Linked DNA regions of Homo sapiens: all the other regions are linked to region 3. Evidence: fine-mapped expression QTL. A gene starts in region 3. Each other region holds a variant in brackets. All regions are shown on one strand. Distances are from middle to middle.

Region 1 (2,766 bases), 670 kb before region 3:
TATGTAATGACTTGACTATTTTATACCATGTTTACAAACATGATTCTTGCCTTTCATTAATCATTGCAGTGGTCCCACCTTTGCTTACATAATTTTTAGATGACTGATAGCAGCAAACCTCATATTTTAACATTTATATTAGTTAAAATATTTTATAGCACTCTAAAATGATGCCATATTAATGCAATTTAAGTGGTTGTGTTTTTTGCCTTTTAAAACTGATTTAAGTACAATTTAGATGGCTTTATACTCTGAAAGCTGATAATTTATGTTAAGTTTAAAATTCATATTCCTTTTTCTATCTTAGAAATTAGGGGCTTTTAGAAATGAAATATCTTATCTTTGTTTCTGTGGGTGTTTCATATTTATCTTTTTATTTAGTGATATAGCATCTTTTCCAAGACTAACCCAGAGAAATAGCTCTTAAGGTTATTATTGGCTTCCTCACACCAAAGTCTTAGGGCGTAAGAAACCATTGGTCCTTTTGTAGCTAGACGAAAATCTTGGGGTGAAGATAAGGTGTGGAAGAAGAACAGAACCGGTGTCTCCACCTTCACTAGTAGCCTTCCAGAAATCTTTCAAATGGGCTTTCTAAAGTAAGGCAAGACCCAGTGAGCATGTCCTCGGTTCTTCTGCCAACTCTGGAGCTCTGGGAACCTAGGACTTGCTTGCAAAACCAGACCAGGGGAGTCCCAGGACATAGATCAGTTTCATCAAAGGGTCCGAGGTGGTTAATAGACACTATCAATAGGTTGGGAGAGGGCACTTGTCATCCAAAGAGCTGTGTCGGACTTTCAGTCAGGGTGTCATGATCATTTGCTGTGCCTGGTGTTACCATGTTCCCCTTGCCCTTACTGAAGATCCATGACTCGGAAAACATAGTGCTCCTGCTCAGTAACCTTCAACCTGCTGCCTCTAGTACTTTTTCTGTCCTAGTCTGTTGCACAGCAGCCCACTCCCCATCTATCTGTCCACTTCCAGGACTGCCCTTAGAATTCATTCATTCATTTATTTAACAAATATTTATCGAAGAGTTCATTATATATAGCAGGCATTTGTGCTAGATTTTGGATATACAGTGCTAAATAAAAAAAATTGGCCACTGAGTACCAAATTTTTAAAAAGTTTTTGCTTGAATTTAAACAAATTTAAAGGCTATGCTGCCTGCCTTCAGGGATAGGTCCCTGTCTTTAAAGTATGTGGCCTTGTGAATAGGATTATTTGGATACCAAAAACGAGGAACTC[GC/G]CTCCCAACTGGGACTGGAAACTGTGCCATCATAGGGGCCCAGGTTATAGGAAGGAGGGGACGGAATTACAATCTTCTTAGAACTTGAGGCCCAGACCATTCAGGATTCCATAAACAAACTTCTGTGAGACTAGTTCATCTGCTCTTCTCCACAAACATGCCCCCCTCCCAGTATTTCTGAGGCCAAACCCTGGCCACTGTGTAGAACTTTTTATCCCTGAGTCTGAATATCCATGTTTTATGAAGCTGATTTCCTAGGTGGCCTTTAGCCTTTGGCACCTTGTGGATTGCCAGTGGCAGACTGCTGTCACATGAAAAGCTTGGCCAGTTATAACCTTGTATCATGGAGGACTGACCTTCCCAGTGTGTGTGCCATGTTGTAGCTCCCAGTGCATGGCCACGTGCTGTGCTGCCTCCTGGTCTTGGGGCTGGTTATAAATCTGCAGTTCACTCATGTGTTCCTATACGAGGCCTTTTACAGACTCCAAATAGATGGTCCTGAGCTGATACTGTCATTGTCACCATGATCCTGGAGACACAGCCTGTAGCTGTGTGGAAGTAAACTTCTAAAACCTGTCTCTTCTGAGAGTTACTGCATGAAAACAGGCAAGGATGGGTCAAGTTTTGGACCAGCAGCCCAAGTTCCACCAACCACTCTGTTATACAGAGGCTTCTAAGCTATGCAGAGTGCTATGAAGGGTTTATTCTTCTTTTGCCCACCTGACTGATATACTGATGTACTTTTTGAAGAAGGGCAATGGAATTTACCTAGACGTCACTGTGGTCTTGATGTGGCTGAAGTGTTTTGTTGAAGGCTCTTTAGTCCTGTACTCATTTAGATTGACTCTCACTTCTGGTCCCTTTTTGTGGTGCAGACTAAAGCCTCAAACTCTGTAAAAGACAATGGCTTGTCTCATGTAAGTATGTGGAATAGGGGCCTAATACGGGAAAATAAGCTACTGGCAGTAAAAAAATTTTATATTTTTATTTATTTTTTATTTTTTTATTTTTATTTTTATTATACTTTAAGTTTTAGGGTACATGTGCACAACGTGCAGATTAGTTACATATGTATACATGTGCCATGTTGGTGTGCTGAACCCTCCTAATGCTATCCCTCCCCCCTCCCACCAACCCCACAACAGGCCCCAGTGCGTGATGTTCCCCTTCCTGTGTCCATGTGTTCTCATTCTTCAATTCCCACCTATGAGTGAGAACATGCAGTGTTTGGTTTTTTGTCCCTGAGATAGTTTGCTGAGAATCATGGTTTCCAGCTTCATCCATGTCCCTACAAAGGACATGAACTCATCATTTTTTATGGCTGCATAGTATTCCATGGTGTATATGTGCCACATTTTCTTAATCCAGTCTATCATTGTTGGGCATTTGGGTTGGTTTCAAGTCTGCTATTGTGAATAGTGCTGCAGCAAACATACATGTGCGTGTGTCTGTATAGCAGCATGATTTATAGTCCTTTGGGTATATACCCAGTAATGGGATGGCTGGGTCAAATGGCATTT
Region 2 (2,766 bases), 65 kb after region 3:
CTATTTCAACATTAATGCTGGTCAGATGTTGTGTCTAAACCACAAAAGGGAGGGAAGATAAAGAGGTGCATCTGACCTCTCGTCCTGTGATGGCCAGAAACTCAGTTTTTAAAAGGTTTCTCTGGGGTCCTCTTGGCCAAGAGGCAGCCTGTTCAGTTGACTGGGGAGCTAAGGACTTTAGTTTCAGTTCTCAATAATCATCCTAGTTACACAGTCATCAGACTCACCACACCCCAAAGAAAATGAATGTTCTGTGGTTCCCCTTTCTAGGGTCTCATAGGATCAAAGTTTCCCCAGGTTGAAAGGGCTCTCAAAGAAAAGGTATGTTAATTCTCTTGAAGTTTTCAAATTTCAGTGTACCTAGGGATTTCCTTGAGAGCCTGTTATGCAAATTCCTGGTCCCTGGTAACAAGATTTGTGATGTAAGTCAAGGATGGGGCCCAGGAGTCTGTATTTTTTCCAAGACCTCACCCTCTCCCCAAGGGATTTCTTTAGAGATGTACCTGGTCAATTCTGAAATCAACTTCTAAAAGCTTTTCTTGGCATAGAGTAGAAATCTATATCCCTAAAGTACCACCCACTAGTTCTAACAATCACATAGAAAAAAAAGAATGGATTTCTCTTCCTATGATAGACCTTTAAGTATGGGAGATGCCTGTCATCATTTCCAGAGTTCTATTTTATTCAGCCTAACTACTTCGGTCTCTTCTCCAACTCTTCTTCAATACACAACACACACACACACAAACTCCTACAAGGTTACCGAGAATAAAACGTATGCCAACAAGTACAGATTAGGGTGCTATGACTCAGGAACAATGTGTGTGAAAAAGTTTAAAGATTTTAGCTGATAGTAAACTCAATATGTGTCAACAGTATGAATCATTACAAGAGAGTAGGAGAAAGGAGCAGGAGAAGAGAGAAAAAGGAAGAACAAGAAAAAAAATCTCTGCCTCTGGTTGTTGATGGTATCAAATGAGATGCTGATTATGCAGACTTCCCCTAATGTACTCTGCTGTCATGTATATTTCTTTGATCAAATATCTTCCACTTCCTAGAATACCAGCTCCACTCCTCCCCTAAAGCAATGAGCTATTTTCAAAACCATTCATCTTTCAAGATTCAGCTCAAACATCAAGTCCTCAACTGCCCCAGGATAACTTACCTCTCTCTCCTTTAAACTCCCACTGTTCTTTACACAGCTCATCACACTCGATTGTTTACACATGGCTTACTGCACTTACCACCCCCCCCCCGCCCCGCCTTCTAATGTGCTGCCTGCATGATTTCCTTAGATATTATTCTTACTGTTC[A/G]GTGTCTATCTGTCCTAGAATATGAGCTCATGAGGGCAGCTTCTGTCTTATTTAATGCTATATCTCTGGTGCCTGGAAGAGTGCCTGGCACATAGTGAGCACTCCTGGGAAAATATAATTAAAAACGAAATGTCCTCCTAACCCAGAAAAGCTTTCTACAAAGGTAAAAGGAAAACTATTTTATTATTAAATAAGCATTAAACCAGAAAGTGATGCACATTACAGGCAATCTGCTAAAGAAATGGCAAAGACCAGAAAGAACTCTCACTCTTTTATAGCTAAGGGGATACAACCCATTACCATTAGTTAGGCTTTGCAATTTGGAGTCAGACAACAACTGAAGTTACACCCCTCTCCTCTTAGGAAACCGGAAGCTAAAGCCTTAGCTTCCTTGATGATTACATCAAGGAAGAGAGGACGTCCAGGTCCTTGAAGAAACACTCCAGATTGTGAGGTAGCCCAGAGGCTTATTTAGCCACTAAAAAGATTCACATACATAGAAAAGGACAGGGAAAACTTTTTTTTTTTTTTTTTTTGAGACAGTCTCGCTCTGCCGCCCAGGCTGGAGGTGCAGTGGTGCAATCGCCGGCTCACTGTAAGTTCCGCCTCCTGGGTTCACGCCATTCTCCTGCCTCAGCCTCCCCAGTAGCTGGGACTACAGGCGCCCACCACCACTCCCAGCTAATTTTTTTTATTTTTTAGTAGAGATGGGGTTTCACCATGTTAGCCAGGATGGTCTCGATCTCCTGACCTCGTGATCCGCCGGCCTTGGCCTCCCAAAGTGCTGGGATTACAGGCGTGAGCCACCGCGCCCGGCCAGGGAAAACATTCTGAAAGAGAAAAAAGGAGTGGAGAAATTTCTTCCCTTATTTTCGACAGGAAGATTTAAGCTCCTCATCTTACATTTTTACTTGCTCTTTCTGCACTTAATCACCACATGTTGAAAAAGTAAAAACTAAAAGATGGTTTTCCCTGTAATTAACTATAAACACCTAAGGGCAAGAGCTATGTGTTATTTTCCTACACAACACCAATATAGTGTGCACTCAACAAATGTTTGTGGAAAGAGGAAGGAAGGAAGGAAAAGAAAGAGAAACAGGAAAGAGAGAAGGAGAAAGAGAGGAAGGAAGGAAGGAAAAAAAGAAAAGGAGAAAGATGATTTTGACAACTGTAAAACAATCTCCACATTAAGGACTAAGCATTAAGGGAAGAGAATCAAATAACAGACAGATAAGCTGGGCCTATCATAATAGTTATTGACTCTTCATAAACCATCTCTACATGTACATTTAGTTATGCATTGGGTAATGGTTAAAATAGATACCTAGGGTGCTTTCCAAAACTGGATTCTACAGTTCCTAGGTCACGGACTTGGCTTGTCTCCAGTTGGCCTGCTTTTATAACCACCCAGTGGGTTTTTCTTGTCCACTGCCCAGATAGAGCTAATTTATGA
Region 3 (2,766 bases):
CCAAGAGCTGAGCCTTAGGGAATGACTAGTAGGCCCAGATTCTTGGGGTGACTTCCTTCGAAGACTTCATTTGTTAACACCTTCCTTCCCTTCTTGTTAGTTTCAGTGGGAAGTAGGATTGGGGTGATTTGGAGAAGCAGTGGGGAATTTAGTTAGGGGAGACTCCTGGGTACCTGTGGGGACATAAAAAGGGATTGGTGTGGGATGGCAGGTAGAGGCCACAAGAGGAGGGCGTGAATGCTACATGAAGGAGTTTGTTGTTGTTTGGTGGAAGAGGAGGAGGTATGCATGTGAGGAGGGGTGGCCATGAGCCTGGAGCTGTCCTGCAGGGCAGCTTCTTTCACTCTGCTGCGTATGTGGTGGAGAGCTCTGACCCACCCTGCTCTTGAGTGTTTCTGAATGCTAGGAGCGGGGACAAACCTGCAAGGCTGATTGGATGTTGAGGAACAAGTATGTAAAGAGAAGTGTATACATAAAAACCAAAAATCCCTGGGGCTTTGAATCCTTCTAGAGCTCCTGGCCACCTTCTTCAGGACAGCAACTGACAGTGTTGTGAAGTGCTTGGCTTTGTCCTTCTCGCAGGCCATCTGGGCTAAGTAGTGAGATCCACGTGGCCAGGAAGGAAGGCATGCATCTCCCCAGGCCTGTGGCTCTCCTTGTATTGACCTTGCTGCTTCCTGGGCTAAGCAGCTGCAGTGAGGGTGTGTTGCCCTGAAGCAGTTACGTCATTCATTAATCCAAATTCTGAAAGACAAATGAGCATATGGTGCTAAAATACTTTTTTTTTAAAAGCCACAGTTTCATTGTCTTAGTCAAAGCAAGATTATTACGTGATTATTTTCAATTCAATATATTTGTTTTGGAGACAGTTTCTTGCTCTGTCACCCAGGCTGGAGTGCAGAGGCACTATCATAGCTCACTGCAGCCTTCAACTCCTAGGCTCAAGTGATCCTCCTGCCTCAGCCTCCTGAGTAGCTGGGACTACAGGCACCTGCCACCATACCCAGCTAACTGTTTTTCCAGTGTTTTTAGAGACAGGGTCTCACTATGTTGTCCAGACTGGTCTCGAACTCCTGGCCTCAAATGATCCTCCCACCTCAGCCCTAAATTCATTTTTTTAAATTAGCAATTTCAAGTATAACAAATTTGGAATAAAGGTTTGTTTTCTATTAATAAAAATGAATAGTGACAAAACCCCCAATATTCTAGATTGTGAGACTTCCCTCTTGTTGTAGTTGGACCACATTTAAGGACTAAATTGGAAGGAAGGAGCAAGAGGAGTCTGTGACAAACCTGTGGTTAAGCTCTCTTTGAAGAAATCGCACAGTATGGCTCCGTGCTCTGAACATGCTCTGTGTCTGCCCTTTTTCAAAGGCGAGACAGCCACCTCGAGGCCAGTCAGACCATGAATAATGGTCTAAGCCCTTGCCACCAGGATGGAGAGGTCTGAGCAGTACAGTGAAGAGGCTTCATCAGCAAGGGCTGATTCAACGGCACCTCTCTCTGGATTCAATGGCATTCTTTCTGGAGGTTAGCCCATTTCTTTAAGTCAGCTCCATCCAAGTTTGATTATCCTTCTTTGAATCTCTTCCAACAATTTGACATCCTTGAGGTTGAATAGCTGAAAACTGCACATAGCGCAGCACTCCACACAAAACACCTTTAGAAATTTCTAGTTGAGAAGAACTTGGGCAAAGTCAAATCTCCCCACTTGATTTTGTTTATGTTCCTCTCTTGGGATTTGTCTTGGGCATGTTACTGTACAAATAACTGCTATCATCATCATCATCAACACCAGTTTTAAGAATTATAATAGCAATAAAATTGACTTACCATTTTTGAGACTGGAGTTTTGTTACCTGATATGGTTTGACCCTGTGTCCCCACCCAAATCACATGTCAAATTGTAATCCCAGTGTTGGAGGAGGGGTCTGGTGGGAGGTGACTGGATCATGGGGGCGGACTTCCCCCTTGCTGTTCTCATGATAGTGAGTGAGTTCTCATGAGATCTGGCTTTTTGAAATGTGTAGCACCTCCTCCTGCTCTCTATTCCTCCTGCTCCTGCCATGTGAGACATGCTGGCTTCCCCTTTGCCTTCCGCCATGATTGTAAATTTCTCGAGGCTTCCCAAGCCATGCCTCCTGTACAGCCTGTGGAACTGTGAGTCAATCAAACCTCTTTTCTTTATAAATTACCCAGTCTTGGGTAGTTCTTTACAGCAGCATGAGAACAGACTAATACATTACCTAAAACAAATTTTGGAAACAAATCAGGTCATTAAAAAGTGCAAGCACGGCCAGCCATACTAAGCCACCTGTTCACTGTGTTGCTGGGGTTTTTTTTTTTTTTTCAATTTATTTTTTTGAGCCAGCATTCTTTTGTGAATATCAATTTCTACTGGGCAATCAGGCCATGTGGTCTCTCCTCTGGACTGGCCCCTACAGCCTTCCACACTCTGTGACACTCAGTGGCCACAGGCCCCTGGAAAATTGGATGTGTGACTGAGTCTTTAAGAGGTGGAGTGACTTACTTTAATTCAGTAAGTCAATATGTTTTAAACTCAGATTGTTTGTTCCACAATAGGAAAAAGCTGTGAAATTTCTTGTCTCAGCTCTGTCTACCACTACTTTGGAGGGGCTACAGGTATCAGTGAGATAAACCAAAGTCAGATATTCAAACTGGGGCATAAAATGTTCTGCATGAGTGTCAAGAATGGTTCTTTGGGTGTGGCGAAGGGTTCACACCTACATTTAATTTTCGAAATGT

Which allele goes with the higher level. Alleles are on the strand shown, and positions count from the first base shown. SD is a standard deviation of normalised expression in the study named. Not every link is listed here.
In carriers of allele GC in region 1, the expression in lymphoblastoid cells of the gene that starts at base 1,464 in region 3 tends to be lower than with G alone (large effect, 1.1 SD a copy in GTEx).

What was found. PIP is the estimated chance that this variant, and not a neighbour inherited with it, causes the effect.
Region 1: its variant is fine-mapped to the expression of LINC01050 in lymphoblastoid cells (GTEx, PIP 0.95).
Region 2: its variant is fine-mapped to the expression of LINC01050 in monocytes (Quach 2016, PIP 0.94).

What each region holds. Positions count from the first base shown.
Region 1 is chr13:42,138,681-42,141,446 of GRCh38, forward strand. All of the region lies in intron 3 of DGKH (diacylglycerol kinase eta), which reads left to right. Among named protein-coding and RNA genes, the nearest start is that of DGKH, 91 kb to the left of the region's middle. The variant GC/G (reference allele first, on the strand shown) is at 1,246.
Region 2 is chr13:42,876,203-42,878,968 of GRCh38, forward strand. No RefSeq gene overlaps it. Among named protein-coding and RNA genes, the nearest start is that of LINC00428, 4.8 kb to the left of the region's middle. The variant A/G (reference allele first, on the strand shown) is at 1,314.
Region 3 is chr13:42,811,099-42,813,864 of GRCh38, forward strand. LINC01050 (long intergenic non-protein coding RNA 1050) reads right to left here and starts at 1,464. Exons shown (of 3, transcript NR_125747.1): 1 at 1,294-1,464; 2 at 421-744.